Linked DNA regions of Homo sapiens. The protein of the gene in region 2 purifies or fractionates together with the protein of the main gene of each other region. This does not show direct contact. Each region holds a gene or a part of one and is shown on either strand. Other genes may lie near its edges.

Region 1 (3,500 bases), on a different chromosome or scaffold from region 2:
AAAGGAACGAAGTACTGCTACATAGTACAACATGGACAAACCTCGAAAACATGCTAAGTAAAAGAAGCCAGTCACAAAAGACCACATATTGTATGATTTCATTTACATGAAATACCCAGAAGAGAGAAATCTGTACTAAAAGGAAGTAGATTAGTGGTTGCCTAGGGGTGTGGCTGGGGAAGTTCAGGGGAAAGGGAGAGTGACTGCTAATGGCTACAGGGTTTCTTAGGGTGGAAGGGTAACGAAAATGCTCTAAAATTGATTGTTATAATGATTGTACAACTCTGTGAATATTCTAGACCAGTGAATCATACATTTTAAATAGGGATCAGTTGGGCGCAGTGGCTCACGCCTGTAATCCTCTACTTTGGGAGGCTGAGGTGGGCAGATCATCTGAGGTCAGAAGTTCGAGACCAGCCTGACCAACATGGAGAAACCCCGTCTCTACTAAAAAATACAAAATTAGCTGGGCGTGGTGGCACATGCCTGTAATCCCAGCTACTCAGGAGGCTGAGGCAGGAGAACCCGGGAGGCGGAGGTTGCAGTGAGCTGAGATTGCACCACCGCACTCCAGCCTGGGTGACAGAGCGAGACTCCGTCTCAAAAAAAAAAAAAAAAAAAATTGGGACCTATGGTATGTGAATCATATCTCAATAAAGTTCTTATTAAAAAAAGAAAGCTCAGCTGGGCACGGTGGCTCACGCCTGTAATCCCAACACTTTGGGAGGCTGAGGCGGGAGGATCACGAGGTCAGGAGATGCAGACCATCCTGGCCAGGATGGTGAAACCCTGTCTCTAGTGAAAATACAAAAATTAGCCAGGCATGGTGGCGGGCGCCTGTAATCCCAGCTACTCGGAGGCTGAGGCAGAGAATTGCTTGAACCTGGGAGGTGGAGTTGCAATGAGCCGAGATCACACCACTGCACTCCAGCCTGGGTGACAGAGCAAAACTCCATCTCAAAAAAAAAAGCTCAAGTAATATTTTTTTTTAGGAAAGTACTTTATATACTTTAAAGATATACTTTATATATCTTAAATAGGACAGCTGGGAGAGTTTCCACAACTTTTGCATATTCCAGTTAGGAAGCCCCCTTCTACCACAGTAACCACATCACTAACTCTAATACAATCCCCTGACCTCTGTCTTTGCCCCTATAGCATTTTATGCTTTCCTCATCAAGGCACTTTTCACAATGTTGAGCAATGGCCTGTTTACTTGTTTCTTGCCCCCACTAGACAATGAGCTCCTTGAGAGCAGGGACATCGTTTGCCTCATTCATTGGTATAACCCTGGCAGCTAGTACAGTGGCTGGCACAGAGTCACTCAATATACACCAAAGAAATGACTAAATCTTAATCTACATCAAGGACACAAAGATCTGAAGGCAACATCAGGGCAGGTGTAGAGGCAGGGAAGCTGGGGTGATTAGAATACAATATTGCCTAATTATATTTCCAAGCTGTAAATTAGCCTCCGCCCTCTCTATATCGACCCAGCCTTAAGTCAGGAACACTTACTGGGCTCTGTGGCAAGAGGCTGCTACTGGTCTCTTGAGTACTGGGAGGTCGACTTCCACTTTCCTCCAGTGGCAAAATACCCCTTCGATCCAGCACACTGAAGGAGATAAGAGAGTTAACAAAGAACTGGGCATTCACCCCTCCACCCACCTGGCCTACGGAATTTTGCTGCATAGACTGGAAAATATAAACCTGTCCTTTGGCAATCTAGCCTGAACACAGCACATGCCTCTTATCTCCCATTCACTTTTTCTTCCACAAACCAGGAAATGTCACATTAACCAGGGAACAAACAAATGAAATTAAGAATGAAAGATCATCCCTCCAAAACAACCAGCCCATGGTCTATGGTCCATGTAGACATGGTACCAAGTGGCAAGCCCTGGAAAGACCTATTTGACACCAAGAGGCCACACTCAGAAAAACACATCAGACAAGGTAACAGGATCAGGTTGAGCTGCTCATCCCAACAGTCCCAGGACTTTTGAGTGCCCTGAGCACCTGGGGGGCAAGGGGCCACACAGCACTTCACAGCAGTTCTTCACAATATTGCCATGGCTGTAGGGATTCTGGACGCGATTCTTCCCTGTCCATGATCCTTTGATCTGCAAGATAAAAACCAAGGCTGACATTAAAAATAATGTTAAAATGAACAAATAATAATAATAAAATTAAAAACAGACACAAAAAAGAAAAATAATAATAATAATGTTGAAGAAACACATGCAGCATGGGATAATAAAAAAGTTCTGGAAATGGATGGTGGCAATGGTTGCACAACAATGTGATGCCACTGAACTGTACATTTAGGATATGAGGGCGATCTGGCTGCAACAACTGTCACCCCATTGATCGCCAGGGTTGAAAGACATTTAATATAGCACACTTTATATCATGTATATTTTATCACAACAAAAAAGAAATACATACACAGCCATGAAAAATACTCACAATAGAGTGAAAAAAGCAGATAACTGAATGATATATACTATTTTTATTTAAAAGTACATAATATAAACACATAAATAAACATGGAAAAAAGTCTAGACAAGTCTAGAATATATAAATCATACTACTAACAAAGGTGATGTCTAAGAAGTAAAGTAAGAGGAACTTACTTTTTTCTTTTTGCTCATCTGTATTTTCTGATTTTCTACAGTGAATGTAGATTAATTGCTAACTTTTTTTTTTTTTTTCCAGACAGAGTCTCATTCTGTTGTCCAGGCTGGAGTGCAGTGGCGTGATCTTTGCTCGCTGCAACCTCCACCTCCCGGGTTCAAGTGATTCTCCTGCCTCAGCCTCCCGAGTAGCTGGGACTACAGGTGCACACTAACACATCCGGCTATATTTTTGTATTTTTAGTAGAGACAGGGTTTTGCCATGTTGGCCAGGCTGGTCTTGAACTCTTGACTTCAGGTGATCCGCCCGCCTCAGCCTCCCAAAGTGCTGGGATTACAGGCGTGAGCCACCACACCCAGCCTAATTGGTAACTTTTTATATAGCAAGGATTCATCCAGTGCAACTGTCCCTCTCCATGCCAAACAGAGGCACCAGCTAGCCTTTAAGGACCTGTGAACAGTTAAAGGCTGTATACCCACCCAACTTTTCAACCTCTTCTTCCTAATGCTCCACAAGCATTCAACAAAGCCCTCTCCTTTCTCTTCCACACATCTGACTTAACAACCTCGCATACCACGTTTCTGCCTGCCTCAACCTCCCAGGCCCTGGAGACTCGGTAGTTCTCTAGCAGGTAGCAAGAGGATAGGCTTTGGGAAGAAGAATATGTGGTGAGGAGAAGAGAAAGTTGACTCACGTCTTCATTGGTTGTCTGGTTGAGAGCCACGAGGAAAGTATGAAATCCAGTCAGTCCCACGACGGACCAGAGTGTAAAGAAGCAAATGAGGACTTCTAGAACAGTGAGGTGTGGTTAAGGAGTATTGAAGAACTCAACATCAGGAGACTTGATGCCTCCGCCCATATTC
Region 2 (4,103 bases):
AAAACACAAAAAAATTAGCTAGGCATGGTGGTGTGCCCCCGTAGTCCCAGGTACTCAGGAGGCTGAGGTGGGAGGATTGTTTGAGCCTGGGAGGTCAAGGCTGTAGTGAGCTATGATTGCACCACTGCACTCTGTCCTGGATGACAGAGTGAGCCCATGTCTCAAACAAAAACAAAAACAAAACCCCCAAAACAAAGCCTGGGTCCTAGTTCCTGTAGAATTCTGGACAAGTTACTTCATAGGGCTGTTAGGATTAAATGAGTTAATACCTGGAAAAGTGCTTCCAAGAGTACCTGACACTTAGTCAAGGGCTCTCCAAAGCTAACCGTTATTATCGCCAACAGAGAATGAGCATGGGACAAACTGCTAACAGGTTCACCTTTGGGGAGGGGTCTAGTTATAGAGAGAAGAAAACTTTTTTTTTTTTTTTGAGACACAGTTTCACTCTGTCGTCCAGGCTGGAGTGCAGCGGCGTGATCTCATCTCACTGTAACCTCCGCCTCCTGGGTTCAAGTGATTCTCATGTCTCAGCCTCTCGAGTAGCTGGGATTACAGATGCGTGCCACCACCCCTAATTTTTGTATTTTCAGCAGTGATGGGGTTTCTTCATGTTGGCCAGGCTGGTCTCGAACCCCTGACCTCAGGTGATCTGCCCATCTCGCCCTCCCAAAGTGCTGGGGTTACAGGCATAAGCCACGATGCCTGGCCTAGAAAACTTACTTTTTATTTATCTGTCCTGTTTGATTATGTATGTATTTATTTTTTACAATATATGTATATTACTTTTCTAATTAAAAAAAACCCCTAGTTTAAAATTAAAAAATTAACAAACACAGAAGAATCCTCTGAAAGGTTTAAACATTTCTTGGCATTTCATGTTCCTCAAAGTAGATAAAGAAAAACAGACAATCTCTGCCCTTCTGGAGTTCCCATTCCACCTGATCTTAATTAATTCCCTCTGCAATCCTCAGGGATAATCATTTTACAGATAAGAAGACTGAGGCCGGCCAGTGGGGGGAAGTCACTTGTCCAGTCTCCCACAGCTGGGAGCAGGGCTACAATCTCCAGAGCTAGGGCTGTTTCCACCACTGCCCAGGCCAGGTCTGTGGATGGCATGTTTGAAGCTGGTGTCCCCAGGAGGAGAGAAGCAAGACGAATGAGGAGGTCTGCATGTCCAGGCTCAAAACTTCACTCTACATTATCATTGGCTCCTGTGGTGGGGAGGGCGTGATGGATGCAGGCAAGAGTGGAAACCCAGAACAAGGAGTCCAGCATGAGGGGGGCTCAGGCTCCTCGCTGCCCACTCTCAGACCTGGGTTCGGCGATGGAGGTCCCCATGCACCTCTGCCTAGAGGAGAAGCACAGCTTCAACCTCCCTAGTTGTTCAATCTCAGCTCTAGGGTAGGTAGGAGACCCCTGCCTCTCCTTAACCACCCTCCCAAATTCCCCTGCCAGGGCCTGATTTGAAGGGCAGTGCTGTTTCTTCTAGTCCACTACAGTCACTCCTCCCTGAGACAAGAACCTGAGTTCCCTATGCTGGGGCTAGGCACAGTGTCCTCAGATGCTCTGGTCCTCCCTAGGGCACCCAAGTGTCCCCATCCCCACTGTTGCTGGCCCCGGCAGAGGAGCTGCTCTGGTGGGTGGAACTGATGACTGATGGAACCCCCATGGCCACAGCGGCCAGACCAAAGCAGGAAGTGTGGTCCAGGCTGGGTCAGGCTGGCCCAGGATCTGGCAGCTCCTGGTGACCCTCTCCAGGGAGGTGGCTCTCCTTTCCCAGGACTGCCCGGTCAGGAAGGTGAAGGGAGGCAGAAACAACACAAAGGATTGGAGGGTTCTTGGAGTCTAAGATCCCAGAACACAGATGAACATGGGCCAGAAATGGTCAGCGATTTAGAGACACACCAAAGAGAAACCCTGAGAGACACACGCCGGAGCAGAGACTTTGTGAGAAACGCTCACACAGGGGTGGTGATCAGAGGCAGAGACCCAGAGGAAGGGAGAGACCCATGCAAACGAGGGATCTAGAGGGAAACACACAGCAGGACCTCAACGGATCCACAGATCAGCCTCAGACACACCCCCAGTCCCAGCAAGCCACCGTCCCACAGCGCATCCCCCAACAGGAGGCCACTTGTACAGTGCGGGCGGGCCGGGGACTCGCGCACAGGACGCACTTGGGGACCGGAGGAGCGCCGGGCACAGCAGCGAGAAGCGCACACAAAGAGACAGCCCGGCCAGCGGGAGCAGGCTCCGCCCGACCGCTCCGAGACTCCAGACCACCCCCCGCCCGGGCACACGCACCAGACACACACACAGAGACACACGCAACCCCACCCGCACGCCCTGGGACCGCGCCCCGCCGCGCCCCACCCTGCCCCGACTGCCTGGGCACGCGACGCTTACCAGCTGCAGGCAGCAGAAGGCGACCAGCGTGCAGCGCCCGCTGCACTTGCCCATGGCTCCGGGGGCTGCGCGGGCCGCACGCCGCGGCGCCCTTCTTGCTCCGCGGCCGCCGCCTGCTCGCGCCGCGCGGGCTCCACGTCCTCCCCGCTGGGCGCGCCGGGCGGCGGGGCCGGGCGCCTAGGGCCGGGCCCGGGAGTGTCCGGTCCCCAAGGCTGGGGCCGGCCGCCCGCGCTCCGAGTCCATGGTCCGTCCGTCCGCGCGCTGGCCCCGCCGAGCCGCGCCTCCTTTGTCTAGCGGGCCGTCCGTCAGGCGCGCCTCCTGCCCCGGGGCGGCTGGCGGGGAGCGCGGAGCAAGGAGAGCGAGCCCCGAGCGCGGCGCAGCGCAGAGCAGCACTGCCCAGCTGGGGCAGTCGCCCGGGCTCTCGTCGGCCGCGGCTTCCCGGCCCCACCACGTGGCTCCGCCGCCGCCACCGACAGGGAGGGAGTTGGGGGGAACGGCAGAGGGGTGGGGCGGGGGAGCCGCCGGAGGGGAGGGGAGAGGGATAGGGAGGTGGAGGGTTGGAGAGGCAGGGAGTGAAGTGGAAGAGTGCGTGCGGGCTTAGGGGACAACAGCCCTGAGTCAAATCCAGACTTTGCTGCTCACTCGCTGTGTGACCTTGGGCAAATCACGTCACCTCTCTGGACCTGTTTTCTCATGAACAAAGTAGGAATAATTATGCCTCTTTAGTGTAGATATGAAGATGAAATGCAGTCATGTGAATAAAGCGCTTAGCCCTGTGCCTGGCCTCCTGGCTTGGAACACTTTTTTGTCCACCCTGTCTCTAGGGCTCCAGGGTTCCAACTTGGACTTCTAGTTCTATTTACGTTCCCAGATCTGCTCCTCACCCCAGCCTCTCCCCTGAGTGTCTGGCCACATTTTTCGCCTTCCTTCTTTCCGTCTACTGGCATTTATTGAGCCCTGACTGCATACACACCCCTGGGGGCCCTGCGAGCCAGAGATGAGACCTGCAACACTGTTCCAAATCCCGTAGAGCTGCACCGCCCAGGGAACAGATAGGCTCCCAAGAGCACGCCAGTGAGATGGGTGATGGCAGAGATCTGCCCAGGTGGAGGTAGGGAGCCCCTACCCTGGGCTGCAGTAGGGACAGAGTCAGAAGTTTCCCAGCAGAAGATTGCCTTCTCCAAGCCACCCCCAAAAGCCCTCGAACTGGACACATCTCAAATCCACATAATCATTCCTGTCCCACTCCTAACTTCCTATATTCACCTTGGCAATTAGCATCACCCAAGTGGAATTTCCTAGGTCATCCTCCAGGCTTCCCTACAATTACATCTGATCTGTCACTACATTCTATAAACTGTACTTTCCAACTAACATTTATGAAATACCCACTATGTGCCAGGTTCTCTGCTGGGGATAAGGGAACAAAACCCGACAAAATCTCTGCCCTCATTGAGCACACAGTCTAGTGAGGGATTGTCATTAAAACAAGGAAATATACAAATAAATACGCAAAGTTCTGATGAATACTCTAAAGAATATTAAAGAAGAAACGTGGCACGGTGGCTCACACCTGTAATTTCAGCACTTTGGGAGGCTGAATCAGCTCACTGCAACCTCCACCTGAGTGGAGATCGGCCTCCCAAAAGTGAGTGGATCACCTGAGTTCAGGAGTTCGAGACCAGCCTGGCCAACGT
Region 3 (3,500 bases), on a different chromosome or scaffold from region 2:
CAGGCTGGTCTTGAACTCCTGACCTCAAGTGATCCGCCCACCTCGGCTTCCCAAAGTGCTTACGGGCATGGATTACAGGCATGATCCACCGCACCTGGCCCCTAACACATTTCTTAAAACTCTGTGAAATAGGTAACAATATCCCATTTTAAAGGTAAGGGAATGAGGCACAGAGAGGCCAAGTAACTTCCCCAAGATCACACAGCTGTTAGTGGCTAGTGTGAGACTTGAACCCAGGACAATCAGATTCCAAATCCTGTGTCCTAATCCTACTATCTATCTACTGCATTCCATACTTTGTAGTGCATTCCAGGTTTCCAAGATTCCTACTCACTCTACTGAGTCAAGCTCTCAAGCCCAACCTCAGAGCCCTGGCTTGAGAGTCATCAGTTCTACTGATACAAAGGATGTCCCCTAATTGGAGATGGGGTCCACCATGCCTGGCCACCCCTCAAGGTGTAACTCCCTCTGACACTCAGCCCTGCCAGGCCCTAGGCCTAGGGCCCCACCCTAGGAATGTTCAGCCCCCAATCATCATCAGCGGCACTGGCTAGAGAGCAAGTCTAAGGGAAGCTGGCCTCAGTGTTTCTGGAAACTCAGGAATTAACCTGGAGCTTGCGGCTCCACCCCAGAGTTGGATGGGGCAGGGCTCTGGTTTAAGGAGAAGGGAGAGAAACAGCAGAAGCACTTCCTGGAAGCCAGAGGTTCTGGGCTCTAACTTGAACTAGAACTAGTCCTGCAAAATTGGGCAGGTCACTTAAACTTTGGGACCTCAGTTTCCTCTTGGGTAAAACTGAGGGGGAGGCCTGGCTCACCCCTAGCCATTTCCAGCTCCAGCCTCTGGGATGGGCCTCCTAGCTTCCCTTCCCAGTCCAGCTCACAGGCCCAGGATCAACTAGGCTGAGCTCCCCCTCCCAGCAGCAGGGGTGAAGAGAGGGGCACACTATCTCCCTTGGGGGTTTCTAAGAATAGCCCCCAGTGGGGGAGAAGGGAAGGGGGGCAAACCAGGCAACTTCCCTTCCTGGCCCCAGGAGCCCAAGAGGAAAATGTGAGTCACGGTGGAGGGAAGGGGAAGGGGGACGAGACTGAAATAACTCTGTACACACACATCCCTATCTGACTATGAGAAAAAATGGATGCCAGGGGACCGGAGGAGACTCCAAGCTGGGCCTGGGTCACTGGGTGACACTGTTCAGTATGTCTAAATGAGTGGGTCGGTAGGGGACAAAGTCTCCTTCCTGTGATTGTGAGTAGGGGTGGATCTGGGAAGGGGCTGCCCAAGTAGACGAGGAAGGAGGCCACAAACCCCACCTGTCTAGAAACCCACATACCCAAATGGGCACAGGGAATGTTTCTCAGCCCAGAGGAAGTTGTATGGGCAGCTCTGGCCCCAAGGACTGGCACAGGGGCAGCAGTGAATTTCGCCACTGCCCCAAGAATGTGCCTATCGAGATCCACTACATGAAGCTGTAGCCAGACACTCCTGGGGAGACGGGCACAGTCCTGGCCTCCCTGGGACTGCACCTCCCCAGTCAGGCACTGGGCCTGGCTCTGGGCACCATGCCAGTCGAGAGCAGGGAACAGATGCCCACCCAGCCCATGCCTGGCCAGAGAGGAAGGGGGAAAGGAGACACCACCTCTAAGCTCCTTCCCCAGGAGGGCAGTCCAGCCATAAAGCCCTGGTTGAGAGCCACCCTGGAAGAGAAGCTTTGGGGCAGAAGGACCTGGCCCTTTAAGATGTCTGACAGTGCCCTAAGGGCACGTGCTCCACAAACAAACGGGCTATAAAGTTACTTTTAAAAAGGTACGTTCTGGCATTCTGGCATTCTGGCCAGGTGCGGTGGCTCACGCTTGTAATCCCAGCACTTTGGGAGGCCAAGGCGGGTGGATCATGAGGTCAAGAGATCGAGACCATCCTGGCCAACATGGTGAAACTTGTCTCTACTAAAAATACAAAAATTAGCTGGGCATGGTGGCGCGCTCCTGTAGTCCCAGCTACTCAGGAGGCCGAGGCAGGAGAATCGCTTGAACCTGGGAGGCAGAGGTTGCAGTGAGCTGAGATCGCGCCACTGCACCACTCCAGCCTAACGACAGAGCAAGACTCCGTCTCAAAAAAAAAAAAAAACCACAAAAAAAACAGGTAAGTTCTGTTCTGCAGCACAGGCTGGGTGGAGAAGGGCATCATGCCAGAGAACCTAGCTTCTCACCCTGGGATCCCCAGGCAACTTCCTCTCTGTGCCTGAGGCAGGGTGGGCAACAGGCCACAAGCCTTCAAAACCTTGAGCAAGACAGCACTCTCTAGTTAGGGTCCAGTGGAGGACCCAGGCGCTGTGCTGATGGCGGGGCTGTGCCTACAGCAGCGCCTGAAGGACCCTGGCCTCTGCTCCCTGGGCAGGGGGGTAACAGGAGATGGCAGATCCACAAACTAACATCTCTCTGAAAGGGACTTCCCAGAAACCCCTTCACTGGGTACCATGCCTTCCAGCACTCCCCAAACCTCCCTGCCCCCAGGTGTGAACACTGCCCAGTCGGGTTCTACTCCACTCTAGGAAAGGGTGGGGCCCCAACAGCAACATGAGCTAGATGCTATTTTTATTCCAGCTTTGCAGACTGGGAAACTAAGGCTGGGAGAGGTGAGGCTAGTTGTCTAAGATCCCACAGAAAAGAATACAGCCCACTGGATAAGCAGGTCAGCCTACAGCCACTCCACACGGAGCCGTGGAGTCCCACCTCACACACACTTGGAGCCTGGAGGCAGCAACAGGCATGGACAGAGAACCTCAAGGAAAGGCGCCCAGGTCCCTGGTGCCCAGCATGGGGAAGGTGGGATACGATCAGACTTAACGCTCCTCTCTTCAACAGTCCAACCCCATTCAAACCACATCCAGCCCAGAGAGAACTGACCCCAGCTCTTCACCTTCCCTGTCCTCCCAGAAGTGGCCTTGGTCCAGGAAAGAGGGGACTCCTCTCTTGCTGACAACATCCAAAACCTGCTCTATACCTCCAGATCACCACCTAGAGCTGCTCTTCAGGGATAGCACCAGCGCCTCAGTCTCTGGTGTCAACTTGCCTGCTGAGATGCTAAGGCCTGGACACAGCCTGCACTGCCTTTTCAGCCCCACGGTGGCCCTGGGGCTATATACCACACCCCTGCCTCCAGCCCCACATTCTGTCTCTACAGACTGCACTATTTCAGCGGGCTAAAGAGCCGGAGACTGGGGCCCATGGTGACAGAGTTCAGGCTTGGGTCCTGGGGCCCTCCCTCCCCTCAGCAGTGTCCTCTACCCCAGATCCCACATGGAGGCAGACCCCTCAACCCTAGCCTCCCACCTCCTGCTCCTCCTCCCAGATACAGCCAGACATCCCTGCACCCAGCTTCCACCCATGACTCACCCGCCCTTCCTCACTAAGCCCCCACCTGCTTATGAGGTGAGAAATTCCCCACCTGCTGCCCTCCATCCCTACCTCCCTGGCCACCTACCTGCTTCCAGAGGAAGGCA
Region 4 (3,500 bases), on a different chromosome or scaffold from region 2:
CAATGTCCCCCACCACCAGCTGCTCTGAAGGGATGGTCTTCTTCTCGGAATCTCGGATGACGAGAGCTTGCTGCAGAAAAAAACCATGACAGATGCCTCAGACCCTGGAAGGACACCGGCCCTCCCCCAAGTCTGTGCCGCACCGAACCCCAGGACAGAGGCCTTGGAACTTCCTGATCACTCTCACTGTTGAGTCCATGCTGTTATGCAGCCTGCACCTGGCCCTGTGGACACAGCATTGCTGCTGGAGCATGAGGCTGTCAGAACAGCAAGAATGAAACAGAAGACTGCTTCACCCGAGGCCTGAAGACTCTAAGAACTACTTTTTCTTGAGCTTATGGAGAGTTCTTGGAACAGAAGAGTCGCTGTTGGCCAGATCTGGCCAAGCCAGAGCCCTGGGCCTCCTAGAAAAGGAGACCACTAAGGGTGAGCAATCCTGGCTGGGCGTCTGGGCAGAACACTGAAGGTGGGGCTGGGGAGGCTGATAATCTTGCGAGTGTCAGGGAAATTTTAACGAGGTGATCTCCTGCTTCAAGCTTGGCAGGAGGCGTCTTTTCCACCCAGAATCTCTCCAGCCCACAGTTCTCTGGGCCAGAGACAGTGTGGACACCTGACAGGGGTTTTTGGGGAAGAAGGGAGCACTGGGCTTCCCCACCAAATGCATTCTGGGGCTCAGGAGCAAAAATGGTCACAGATAAACAATTGCAGGCTGGTCTCCTTGGCTGCCAGTGAAAGAACACTCCCTGACCTTCCACAGGTCCCTTCCAGAACCCAGAAGGACTATCCACAAACACTGAGGAGCAGGAACAGAAGATGCCTTGGGCTAACCAGCACTGCCCTGGGTGGTGCCTCATTTGACCATCAAAATCCTGTGAGGAACTGGGGTTCTGACAGATGGGTTAATTCGCCCACGATTGCTCCGACAGGGAAGGAAGTGGAAACCCGTAGCCCTCAGGGCCCTGTGCCCCTCCCAGCTGAGGCTTCCTCACCTGGGAGTCACCAGAGGCCAGAGGATAGGTGGCTGCCACTCACCTGAGGGATCATCTTATTGAAGCTGGACATGATGTTGGTGCTTTTTGCCTCTTGGTAATAAGCAAAGATCCCCGTTAAAATGACCACCAGACCAAGCACACAGCCCAAGTACACCTGGGTGAGAAGGAGGGCGTCAGTCAGAGAAACCAGCAGTGGGAAGCAGCCGGGCCCTGGGGCTAGAGCTCTCCACGGGAGGATGCAATGCTGGCAGTTACGCCCTGGTATAATTTACAGGCCATGGAATTCGCCCATGTTAAGTGCGCAACTTATTGATTTTTTTTTTTAAGTTTACAGAGCCATGACACCACCCTCCACCGCAGCCTCAGAGCATCTCCATCCTGCCTGGAGATCCCTCCGGCCCCTCTGCCGTCACTCCCTGCTCCTGTCCCATGCCCTGGCATCACCGATCTGGTTCCTGCTTCCAAGGATGTGCCTGTTCTGCACATTTCATGTCAATCCAATCCTATGACATGTAGCTTGTTGCCTCTGGCTTCTGTCTCTTGGCATCACGTTGGCCAATTCAGTTTTGTGGATTTGGTACTCATGTCTCGGCAGGCACAGCTGCTCTCCGTGTTAAAGGAAGAGGTTAGCTTGGGGGAGACAGAACCCCAAACTACTTCACATGGATGCAGATTTTCTCCCCCTTAAAAATTCAAGGTGTTTTGTGTATCCCTCTTCATGCCCACACTGCCTCTAGAAGATCAGAAAGCCAGATAGAATTTCTGTTTTACAGCTGGGAAAATGCCTGACTTTCCCACACCTAGGCAGTGGCATTCAGCCCCCAGCTGTGCCCCCAAGGCCTCACTGGATGGCTCTGCCAGCAAAACCAGGAGGGGACACCCCAGAGCCTTACGTTGTTCAGGGATGCAGACTTGTCGCTGGAGTACTGAATCCCATATGCAATCCAACAGAGAAAGGCGCCCACCCACAGGAGGATAGAGAACCCCCCCACCATCTGCTTGAGGAACTTGACGATCTCAGGCGTCTGCTTGGGAGGGGTGAGGGAGTTGGGCCCATCCCGGGCCAGGAGCTCGGCAGCTCTGGTGCTGGAGAGACCCTGGGAAAGCCAAACAAAGCACATGCACAACCAAAACAAATACGAATTAGACATTCCTCCTCCCTCAGGGGTTGGGCTGCATATTTTTGCAGCTTGGGGTGAGGCATTAACGTGGCCAAAGAAGGTCCCGAGAAAAGCAGACCGTGCCTCACTTCTCCAGCTGCCCAGCTTTTTTGAAAGACTATGTAATGCTTAATACCAGCCAGGCACTGTGCTCTGTATATTCACTCATTTAGTCTTTAAAATAACCCTTGAGGCAGGGGCCATTATTCCTCCCTCTCGTCATTCGCAGAGGTGGAATTTGAGGCACAGAGAAATTACGTAACCTGTCGAAGGGACCTGGCCTGTCAATGGTAGCGACCAGGTTCAACGTGGTGACTGGGTCCAGAGCCACTGCACTCTGCTCTGCTAAGGGGTTTTAGTTTCTTAGAGGTTTATCCGGTGAGAGGACTAATTTGATGAAGGAGGACTTGGAATGAAGAAGCTGCTCACCAGGGCTAAGGGCAATGCAGTAACTCCCCAGGAAATAGGGAAGCTTCTGGAATCCTGCACAGAGAGCATGTGGCTTTAGTTTCCATCCTTACGCCTGCTCCTTTTCCACCTTTCTACACATCCAGCCTAAGTTCTCATTCATCTTGACAGGCATAAATCCTACCCAAGCCCTGAGCCCATGTGAGCAGCCCCTGCCCTGGGGGGCCTGCCATCCGTGAGGCACCCTCACCTTTGAAACCCTACATGTTCACAGGAATTTCCCCCACAGACGATCTTTGGTGGACAAGTCTGTAGATACCTCTTCTCCCTAATTATGTTGTAAGCTACTTAAAGGGCAGGACTCTGTCTTGGTCTTTTTTTTTTGAGACAGAGTCTCGCTCTGTTGCCCAAGCTGGAGTGCACTGGTGCGATCTCGTCTCACTGCAACCTCCTCCTCCTGGGTTCAAGCGATTCTCCTGCCTCAGCCTCCCAAATAGCTGGGATTACAGGCAGCGGCCACCACACTTGGCTAATTTTTAAAATATTTTTAGTAGAGACAGGGTTTCACCACGTTGGCCAGGCTGGTTTCGAACTCCTGACCTCAAGTGATCTGCCCACCTTGGCCTCCCAAAGTGCTATGATTACAGACCTAAGCCACCATGACAGGCCAGTCTTGGTCATTTTTGTGTTCTCTCCCGGGTCTCATGCTTTTTCTGTGGTAGTGATTCAAATATCTGTTGAATGGCTAGATTCAGGCTCACCACCTCGATCCCATCTCCCTCCACTCCAATTCCTTTTCCAGAACCCCAGACTCATCTTTCTGAATAACTGTGGAACATTTCCTCAGGGGTGTTCCGGAGAGACTTCTCCTGGTATAACTCACAATAAGTTCATCATCGCCTCCACCCTCCTGCCTTCCCTGCTCTCACCTCCCTGCCCC
Region 5 (2,643 bases), on a different chromosome or scaffold from region 2:
CAGCCTGAGTGACAGAGCAAGACTCTGTCTCAAAAAAAAAAAAAAAAAAAAAAAGTAGATAAGGCCTGTTGTGAAAATTAACCAGTATAGTAAGGTGCCTTGCAATGTTACATGTGTCACCTGAGTATTTTCTGACCCTAGACCATGTTAGGACTCCTTGCCAAGTATTTCCCTAAACTTTATAATACCATAAACTCCCAACCTCACTCTTGAAATGTTTGTCCATCTGCCCACCTTGCAGGCTGTCAGCTCTGTGAAAGCAGGGGCTTTCTGACTTTGATCCTGCTCGTATTCCTAGTGCCTGGCATACAGTAGGTACTCACGTTTGTTAAGTCATTAACTAGAAATCCAACACCTCCTAGATATCATATCCTGGTGATATATGCTCTCCAGCAAACAGCTAGTTTGAACAAGGAAGGATGGAAGATAAAGTTTTTAACAACAAGGCATATAGGGCAGACTCACACTAAGGCTAAAAGCACTCACAAAGGCAACTTAAATCATTAAGAAAATATCTTTATTTATTCTGAAATGTTCCAATAATCAATGTAAAAACTGTGGTAGTGGCTCTTTCACAACTTTACAAATTATAGAAAAATGATTTTTCCTCTTCTTTACAGAAATGTCACTCCCAAATCGTACCGGGCCCTATTATGGCTAAAACCCAGCAGGAAGAAGGGAGCAGAGAATACAGCAAGCAGGGCTCCGGCTCTCTGGGTGGCCAGAAGGCTTTTCCTACACATTAAAGCCCAGGCTGAGTCTCAAAGACCTGTGACCCCTCTGAAGGAGGCTCCATCCACATGGATCTGTGGCACACTGGGGCAGGCCTCTGTCTTGAAGGCCAGTAGGCCACAGAAGACCTGAAAGCATGGCACTCGTGGTTGCAGGCCACAGTCAAGGCAGCTTTGTGAGAATGAGAACAGGAGGCGAGCCTATAGCTCAAATCCCTTTCTCTAAAACACAGCCAGAAAAGAGGCTGTGGACACTGGCCAAACAGTGCACTAGGTTTAGAAATTTCCCCTTTTACTCAGCAAAGACTAATTTGTTAAACAGCTATTAAAAAAAAATCAGAAAACAAACATTTGGTTCCATTTCAGCTGTAATCAGCAGTTGGTAATTTTTGGAAAAAGAGCAGTTTTCTCATCTTGAGTTGCTCATTAAGTCTGTATTTTTTATCAGGCCCCTGACTCCTTTCTTTCTCATCCATGGTTTTTTGGGGAGGGGGGCAAGTACAGCTATAGGAGAAGGCTGTTTGTTGATTTGAGAAAACTGTTAAAATGTTTTGCACTCACATACAAAGGCTGATGGAATTCAAAAATGATCCCACTGATTTTTATGAGAAACATGACTGTTCCTCTTGGGTGTCTCAAGTCAAAACAAGGCAACCGCCTAGTGATTTATAGTTCCCACATTTTCCGCCTTCCAGAAGGCATTAGAGAAAGGGCCAACCTCTGCCAGGAGAGATTGTAAACACACCACTGACAGCTTGGACACTTTGTTTTTAAATGCAGCAGGGCTTTTTCCTTTGGCCCTGGCTGAAAAGCCAACTCCCTAGGACAGTTTAAGAAGGAGCAGATGGAAGGACTCCCCTAAAACCTAAGAGTGAGGGACTAGTAGTCCCCGTTGACTGGAGTATGGCTGGGAACATCATCAAAGGCAATGGATACATTTAGGCCATATGAAAATTGTCCTGTGGTCCCCCAACTGGCCCCTAGGCTCAACCTGGCTGGACATGAGGCATAGGAGGTACAGAACAAGTTACCATAAGGCACATAGTTGAGGTAGCCCCCACACCAGGCCCAGAAAGATTATCTTTTCGCACGATTCCAAAAGTGTTGGAAAGCAGAGGAGTTGATGACACTCACTATGAGCAGCAGCAGCAGATACAGGGATATCATGACGGTAAACCAATGGCTGGAAAACCAGGAGAGCTGGCTCGAAGCCCTGCTTAAGAGGGAAAAAAGAGTGGTGTTGGCAAAAAGAGAAAAACATTTTTTTTAAGTGTGTACAACAAGTCTGGCTCTAAGAAGACAAAATGATGAATTTCATCCTTTGCCTGAGCCATGAAATGAAGCTTCGTGCTTCCTTGCTCAAGAAACCTGGGGCTGTTTGCCCAGGCACTGACACGCCTTTCAACAGGATATTTTCTAAATGCGCAAAGACAGCTATGCAATGAGCTCATCCTGATCTTCCCTTTTGTAGCTCCTCTTTTACCATTTACAACCCATCTTGGTATCTATAACAATGACCTAGCTCAGGGTGTCTGCCCAGATGGTGGCAGGTGGCAGGTAATTTAGCTGAAGTCTTTTCACTTTTAGACACATGCAGATATAAATCCAAGCTGGGGAAATCCTCTTTGGCCCACTAGGAGATGATCTAAACCACCCAAGTGTGCACTAAAGAGATGCTCCAGGGAGAAGTGGGAAAGGAATGGAATTTTCAAGGATAAAAAGTTAGATGATTTTAAACCAAAGCATAATGTCACCTGGACCCAGGCACCCTATATACATTTCCCAAATTTGGACAGGGGTCGGGAGGAGACTTTACTGGTTTATGAAGTCTGGAAGCATGGAAACCACTGGTGTGTACAAGCAGGAGTGGGGATTATTTAAAGTGACCCCTTTTCCTGTCATATCTACTTAC
Region 6 (3,500 bases), on a different chromosome or scaffold from region 2:
CCATTAATTTAACTTGTATTCTTTGCTAGAGGGTGGCAGAGTTGACAGCTGTTGAAAAAAATGGGCCTATAAGGTGGACTCGCAATTATTAGCTTCAAAGTGAACTAACCCACAATTGTATTCATGATGATCATTAATTTTTATGTGTGCATGAAAGATGGCCCTGCTTTAAGCTGTGTAGAGTTGTTTCCAAGCTGACAAGCTTGGAAGCCTTGTTCATTAATTACTCTAAATTCCTATGGATGGATAAAAGACCTCCAGAGGTCTGAGTTGTTAAAGGCCCCCACTGAAGGAAATACAGACTATACATAAAGGAGTCATTCTGAGTTCAAGGGGCCCTCCCACGGCGTATCAATTCCTCCCAAATATTTTTGGGGGTAAATGAAACATTATAAAGTGAATTTAATCATTTTTGGAAACATTAATTATAAAGCATTTTATATCATTAGGCAAGCATCCCCCTGAATGGCTATGAAATATTTTACCTCTGAAAGTTGAAACATTTAGCTTGAATAAAACTTGACATTAAAAAAGTTATGATTAGACTGGTTCATTGATATATATTTGGAGATCAGACATTTACAAGGACATAAGTGTATACAGTACCTGCAAACACACAGACACAGCACATGAAGGTACAAACACATTTAGTTATTTTCACATAATTCCCAAGAGAACATGCAATGCTAAATTGGCTTGATATTATACAGATGCAATTTTGGAATATTTACTTTTAGTTTTCCAAATGATCTTTATAAATCAAAGTTATATTTCCTGATCAATATTAACAAACATTTTCACATGGTGGCCTTGCCATGACAACTTGCCCCTTACAAATTAAATATGCTGTATCAACATTTGGCTCTGAAAAATGTTTAACATTTTATTTGGGGGGCTTATCATATTTTAATGTTTAATATTTTAAATGCATATTTCCCCATATTCCAAGTAATGCATCTTTATATTTTTGCAAAGAATATTGTAAAGTTCACCACACCAACAGCAGAGAAAATTTAGAGAGTGATATTTTCATTTTTTCTTTATAATGCTGTTAATCCGATTTTTTAAAGCCAGCCCATTTGTTTAACACTAGGTACCTGTTACAATACATTAGATTCGTCTGAGAATGTTCGTAAAAGAAGAGGTCTGACTGAAGGTCTGGCGGATAATGAGTCAGATGCCCTTCTACAGCTCAGATTTCTCTGTAATAGTGAGGCAAAGATACTTAAAGCATTTGAAAATTGGTTAACCTACCTGGTGATTATATATTTAAAAAAAGGTAAAAGAAAAAAATCATTTCCTATAGACTACTCCTCTGGCCAAAAGTACAAATGATTACACTATATAGTAAATGTATAACATTCAAATGAATACATTCAAAGGCCTAAGAAAGTCTCCAACTCGAATTGTTTTTGTGGTAGAAGTAAACAGACAACAGTAGTATGTAGTAAACTTGGGTTTTTGGAATGGCACTGGTAAGTAATATGGTAAGATGAGTCAATATGGTTTGATTAGTAAACCTTACCATCCTTTTGGTGAACACCTCTGAGAGTTGTGCCGGTGCCGTATTATCAAACAAAGAGAAATTTGTGCAAAACATTCCTGTCCTGGTGAACAGACTAGCTCTAACACGCCATGGCCACTGCATACCGTGGATCAATGAAGACTACAGACCCGTAGTCCAAGCTTTTAAAAATTACTTCCTCTCCAGTGTGACAATTTGGAAGGTGAACACATGATTAAAAGAAAATGACAAAATACTCTAAGCATCAATAGAAGATATAAAATGAGTCATGAGAAGTAATTTTTCATAAAGAATTAGAAAATGGTGTCAGGCAAATGAGAATGCAAGCAAGTTGGTACATTAAGAAAGGAAATCACCTTATTCACTCCAAGAGAAACTGTGATTGCTGGAAGTTTGAGAAAGCATGAAGATAGCAGATGTTCCTGAGGAAGGGAGGCGTTTCGTTACCTTGTTCACAATTGCACAAAAGGTGGAAAATTGCAGTAGAAAAAAGAGAAATGCAGAAACCAAAAAAAAAAAAAAAGTAAATAATCTCTCAAATGTAAGACATTTAAAAAGAAAACTTGAGAATTCGAAGCCGAAATGATATGTTAGTTTTGAAGACATTATTTTCTGAAGTAAAAGCAGAGTCAGAGATAGGAATAGTCTATTATTACGTGCCAACTACTATTTCTCTACATATCAATTTGAAATTATTTTGTTAATGGGAAAATTGACTATTTTAAATAAAATAGCTTTAAAATATGCTTCTCGTTAAAATAAGACTTATCTCTAATCATTAATTCACTATCCTACATTTGTTCAAAATCCATTGGTCAAAGAGTTATGTCCAGGGTCCATTGCCAATCACCAATCTATCTTGAAGTAATTATCTCCCCTATGCAACTGTACAGATACACTATGAAGGGACTGACTGCTCTTAAGCAGTTGCAGGATAAAAACTTAATCAAAAATAACAATGGGAAAACATTTGGTGATACCACATTTCAGTCCCATTTGCCTCTGACCAATGCTTAACTTCCTTTCTTACAACCTAATTTGATTGGTTTCCCTGTTTTTCCTACAGAGTCCTCTTTAGAAAGATAGGCTAAATTTTACCTGGGTAAGGTATTATTTTTTTTCCCCTTAAAACACCCAGAAAAGTGAAAATGGATAAAGTTTAACTGGCAAACCTAAGGTTATTTTTTTCCTTCTGATTCTGTGCCTGAAATTATAAGGTAATTTACAGACTCAGTTTTGGCATTGCCCAAGCAAAACAGAAGATGAGTGGTCAACAATGTGGATGACTTGAACAACTCTGCTAATAAAGATTACCCATATTGTCTACTTAGTGACCTAAAATGGGCTTAGAAAAAGAAACCAGCTAAAGTAACATTTGTTTCCAGAAGATTCTAATAAACAATTAAACTTTCAAAGGTAAATAATTTATTCATGTTTTGACAACTACATTTTTTCTTGTTTTTACCTTAAATGAAGAAAGTTGGTGGAATGAAGAAAGTTGATAGACATATTGATAGAATGCAAATTACCAATTGATAAAGCTAGAGAATATTTAGATTCTGAGAAAAAGATTTTAATTGTTTCTATCTTCTATTTTATGGGCAAAAACCCTGCGACAAGATCAGCATGATACCAAGTTCCCCACCCCCGTGTTTAATGCACAAACCTATCTATTCAAGACTGCAACTGTAAGCACGTTTTGGTGTGCTCAAACACTTGTATCCAACCATCGGAGATAAAAGTATTTCTATGAAGCAGAAATATTAGGAGTTAATAGATTAGGTGTTAAAACTACTTTATAAAGGAAATGAAAGTACAGAAAGCAGGAGAAAGCATGGAAAGAGTAACTAAAGCAATAAAAAAATTGATATAGCTAGCAACCGGCAGTGGGGTGGGGTAAACAGGAGATAATGAGCTAAAACAGAATGAAATTTCCACATTCCTTTGCAGTCATCTAGAGAGCTTTGACACCAGC
Region 7 (3,500 bases), on a different chromosome or scaffold from region 2:
CAGAAGTCCAAGACCAGCCTGACCAACATGGAGAAACCCCATCTCTACTAAAAATACAAAATTAGCTGGGCGTGGTGGTGCATGACTGTAATCCTAGCTACTCAGGAGGCTGAGGCAGGAGAATTGCTTGAACCTGGGAGGCGGAGGTTGCAGTGAGCCGAAATTGCACCATTGCACTCCAGCCTGGCAACAAAAGTGAAACTCTGTCTCAAAAAAAAAAAAAAGGAACGAAAGAAGAAAGGAAATCTGAGCCAAATTAAGCACCTCCCACCTCCTTATATATAAAGCCAAGAATTGAGACTTTCTCATGGACAATGGAGAGTTATTAGGAATTAAAATGACTTTTTTTTGCTATTTTATAAATAACTTCTAATAAAAGAAGACCACAATAGTTAGTTTCATTAATCTTGTACCTTACTTACTTCTCAATGAAGCTATAATAGGTAAAGTAATAGGTATATGTTCAATTTCTAAACCATTCTCAGTTATTCGGCGTAATCGTCCACGTAGTTTAACATTTCTTCTTATAAATTCTACTGGAATATCCGAAGAGCTTGTAAATTTTGATGTCTATTGATTTACAGGGAGAAAAATATAACCACTTATTATTATTGTCATCTCAAAATTTAAAATGTCAAATTATCAAAACATTTCACAAGAGTACATAACCATGAACATTTTAAAATTTAGTTCCTAATTTTATATTACTTTAATATGATTTAATCAAAAGTGTTTATGGAAACATTATTTACAAATCATTATTCACCATTTTCAAGCCAACCACATAAAGACATTAAACAGACTCCTAACTTCTAAAAGCTTATAACCTCAAAATATGACACAATTCATCAAAAGACATTGAGTATCTATCTATGCCTGGCACCACACAAATCTGGTTAAACAGTCTCTAGCTTGTTCCACATAAGTACAATCTATTCATGCATATACTGACGGGAAAACTTAAACAAAGCTCAGTCAAATTAAGTTAGAACCTTAACCAACCAGGTTTTTTTACTATCATTTTTTTATCTTGTAGGAGAAAAGGCACATTTAAAAAAGAAAAACGAAAAAAAGGCCAACATTAGGACTGTACTACAATCCCTAACACTTAGGTGATATCCTGGAATCAATCAACACTTTATGCCTATTTTTTCCACGTTAACAATACCATAAGCTTTGTTCATAATTATGGCTAGTTAAGAGGCTCACATAACAGAAGGAAAAGCCAGGCACGATGGCTTATGCCTATAATCCCAGCACTTTGGGAGGCTTAGGTTGGAGGGTTACTTGAGGCCAGAAGTTTGAGACCAGCCTGGGCAACAATAGCAAGATACCATCTCCACAAAAAAATGTAAAAATCAGCTGGGCATGGTAACACAGAACAGGAGGGTCACTTGAGCCCAGGAGTTTAAGGTTACAGTGAGCCATAATAGCACCACTACACTCCAGCCTGGGTGACAGAGCGAGAACCTGACTCTGTCAAAAAAAAAAAAAAAAAAAAAAAAAGAATAAATTAGTACCCAACTTCCTATGACAGTAAGGTTGAACTGAAGATTTTTATAACCAAGAATAGTGTAGGAGACAAACCCAGAATGTGGAATATACTATAGAATAAATCACTTGGTTTTCCCAACAAATCAATGGCATTGGAAAAAAAGGGTGGCAAGATACTATAAAATAAATGAGATTTAAGAAATAAATAAAATATATAGACTATTTGAATAGATCATCTATTTTTAAAAATCATAGTGACAATTGGCCGGGCATGGTGGCTCATGCCTGTAATCCTAGCACTTTTGGAGGCCGAGGCGGGAGGATCACCTGAGGTCAGGAGTTCGAGACCAGCCTCAACATGGAGAAACCTCATCTCTACTAAAAATACAAAATTAGTCGGGCGTGGTGGTGCATGCCTGTAATCCCAGCTACTTGGGAGGCTGAGGCAGGAGAACTGCTTGAGCCTGGGAGGCGGAGGTTGCAGTGAGCCAAGATCGCACCATTGCACTCCAGCCTGGGCAACAAGAGCGAAACTCTGTCTAAAAAAAAAATTAAAAAAAAAATCATAGTGACAATCAAGATCTGAATACAGACTGGGTATTAGATGATTCTAAGAGATTATTGTTAATTTTATTAGCTGTGATAATATTAAAGGACAAACTAACATTACAGATCTTTTTTTTTTTTAGACAGGGTCTCGCTCTGTGGCCCAGGCTGCAGCTCAGTGGCATAATCCTGGCTCACTGTAGCCTCGACCTCCTGGGCTCAAGTAATCCTCCGGCCTCAGCCCCCCAAGTAGGACTACAGGTGTGCACCACTACACCTGGTTAATTTTTAAATTTTTTGTATAGATGGGGTCTTTATTTGTCACCCAGGCTGATCTCAAATTCCTGGGCTCAAACAATCCTCCTGCCTCATGAATTTTGATGTCATAAACTAGGAAGTACATATCATCACCTTCTTGCCAAAATGCTTAGGCTGAATCTCACAAGGCAAGAAACAAATTCAGATTATAGAACATATTACAAGACAACTGGCTTGGACTCTAAAAATGTCAGCATCATGAAAGAAAAAAATTGTTTTTAAGTAGGGGTAATGGCCAGATGCGATGGTTCATACCTGTAATCCCAGCATTTTGGGAGGCCGAGGAGGACAGATCATGAGGTCAATAGATGGAGACCATCCTGGCCAACATGGTGAAACTCCATTTCTACTAAAAATACAAAAATTAGCTGGGCATGGTGGTGCGTACTTGTAGTCCCAGCTACACAGGAGGCTCAGGCAGGAGAATCGCTTGAACCTGGGAGGTGGAGGTTGCAGTGAGCTGAGATCGTGCCACTGCACTCCAGCCTGAGTGAAACTCCATTTCAAAAAAAAAAAAAAAAAAAAAACAAGTAGGGGTAATATTCTTGATTAAAGGAGTCTAATGAGACATAACAAGTAAATATAATGCATGATCCTTGTTTGAATGTTGGATTGGGAAAAAAACAATAAAGGACCTTTTTTAGAAAATACATCTGAATATGAACTTTATTTTATGTAAGATTGGTGCAGAAATGTTAAATTTATTAGATGTGCTAATATTAATGTGGGTATGTAGGAAAAATCCTTGCTCTTAGGAAGTACGCTATGAAGTATTTATGGATGATGTCTCATGATGTCTGCAACTTGCTTTGAATTGGTTTCACAAAGGAAGAGAGAATACAACTGTAGCAAAATGTTAACAACTGGTGAATCTAGGTGAAAGGAAAATGAATGTGACAAAATTTTTTAGGAGAAAAAGTTGGGAGGAAAAAGATTCTGGATCTACTGTCAATATTCACTCAAGAATGTGAAATATGCAGAATATAAATGAAAGAGAGGAGAAATGCTAAATCAAACCACAAAGAATTTGAATCACAGGACAAAGTTGCTTATGACAAGTTTATGGGAAAAACAGAGAAATACAGATTAAATATGCACATAGTCAGATGGTTCCCAACATGGTTTACTGAAAACACTAAGGG

Evidence for each region.
Region 1: the proteins of NKAIN1 (region 2) and ZDHHC9 purify together in Homo sapiens (affinity purification with mass spectrometry; one large-scale study listed by BioGRID and IntAct). This does not show direct contact.
Region 3: the proteins of NKAIN1 (region 2) and ADCY6 purify together in Homo sapiens (affinity purification with mass spectrometry; one large-scale study listed by BioGRID and IntAct). This does not show direct contact.
Region 4: the proteins of NKAIN1 (region 2) and ATP12A purify together in Homo sapiens (affinity purification with mass spectrometry; one large-scale study listed by BioGRID and IntAct). This does not show direct contact.
Region 5: the proteins of NKAIN1 (region 2) and PARP16 purify together in Homo sapiens (affinity purification with mass spectrometry; one large-scale study listed by BioGRID and IntAct). This does not show direct contact.
Region 6: the proteins of NKAIN1 (region 2) and ATP11C purify together in Homo sapiens (affinity purification with mass spectrometry; one large-scale study listed by BioGRID and IntAct). This does not show direct contact.
Region 7: the proteins of NKAIN1 (region 2) and C3orf33 purify together in Homo sapiens (affinity purification with mass spectrometry; one large-scale study listed by BioGRID and IntAct). This does not show direct contact.

What each region holds. Positions count from the first base shown.
Region 1 is NC_000023.11:129,809,387-129,812,886, forward strand, and holds part of ZDHHC9 (palmitoyltransferase ZDHHC9), read right to left. Parts: exon of another isoform or gene 3,435-3,500; coding exon 3,332-3,434; intron 2,124-3,331; coding exon 2,020-2,123; intron 1,616-2,019; coding exon 1,519-1,615; intron 1-1,518. UniProt on the Homo sapiens protein: Palmitoyltransferase that catalyzes the addition of palmitate onto various protein substrates, such as ADRB2, GSDMD, HRAS, NRAS and CGAS. The ZDHHC9-GOLGA7 complex is a palmitoyltransferase specific for HRAS and NRAS.
Region 2 is NC_000001.11:31,237,088-31,241,190, forward strand, and holds the start of NKAIN1 (sodium/potassium-transporting ATPase subunit beta-1-interacting protein 1 precursor), read right to left. Parts: upstream 2,801-4,103; 5' UTR 2,461-2,800; coding exon 2,407-2,460; intron 1-2,406.
Region 3 is NC_000012.12:48,779,090-48,782,589, forward strand, and holds part of ADCY6 (adenylate cyclase type 6), read right to left. Parts: coding exon 3,482-3,500; intron 1-3,481. UniProt on the Homo sapiens protein: Catalyzes the formation of the signaling molecule cAMP downstream of G protein-coupled receptors. Functions in signaling cascades downstream of beta-adrenergic receptors in the heart and in vascular smooth muscle cells.
Region 4 is NC_000013.11:24,686,908-24,690,407, reverse strand, and holds part of ATP12A (potassium-transporting ATPase alpha chain 2), read right to left. Parts: intron 2,090-3,500; coding exon 1,886-2,089; intron 1,147-1,885; coding exon 1,033-1,146; intron 71-1,032; coding exon 1-70. UniProt on the Homo sapiens protein: The catalytic subunit of a H(+)/K(+) ATPase and/or Na(+)/K(+) ATPase pump which transports K(+) ions in exchange for Na(+) and/or H(+) ions across the apical membrane of epithelial cells.
Region 5 is NC_000015.10:65,257,599-65,260,241, forward strand, and holds the end of PARP16 (protein mono-ADP-ribosyltransferase PARP16), read right to left. Parts: intron 1,948-2,643; coding exon of another isoform or gene 1,945-1,947; coding exon 1,809-1,944; 3' UTR 501-1,808; downstream 1-500. UniProt on the Homo sapiens protein: Intracellular mono-ADP-ribosyltransferase that plays a role in different processes, such as protein translation and unfolded protein response (UPR), through the mono-ADP-ribosylation of proteins involved in those processes.
Region 6 is NC_000023.11:139,730,554-139,734,053, forward strand, and holds part of ATP11C (phospholipid-transporting ATPase IG), read right to left. Parts: intron 1,973-3,500; coding exon of another isoform or gene 1,883-1,972; exon of another isoform or gene 1,882-1,882; intron 1,203-1,881; coding exon 1,101-1,202; 3' UTR 1,098-1,100; intron 1-1,097. UniProt on the Homo sapiens protein: Catalytic component of a P4-ATPase flippase complex which catalyzes the hydrolysis of ATP coupled to the transport of aminophospholipids, phosphatidylserines (PS) and phosphatidylethanolamines (PE), from the outer to the inner leaflet of the plasma membrane.
Region 7 is NC_000003.12:155,775,279-155,778,778, forward strand, and holds part of C3orf33 (protein C3orf33), read right to left. Parts: intron 571-3,500; coding exon 423-570; intron 1-422.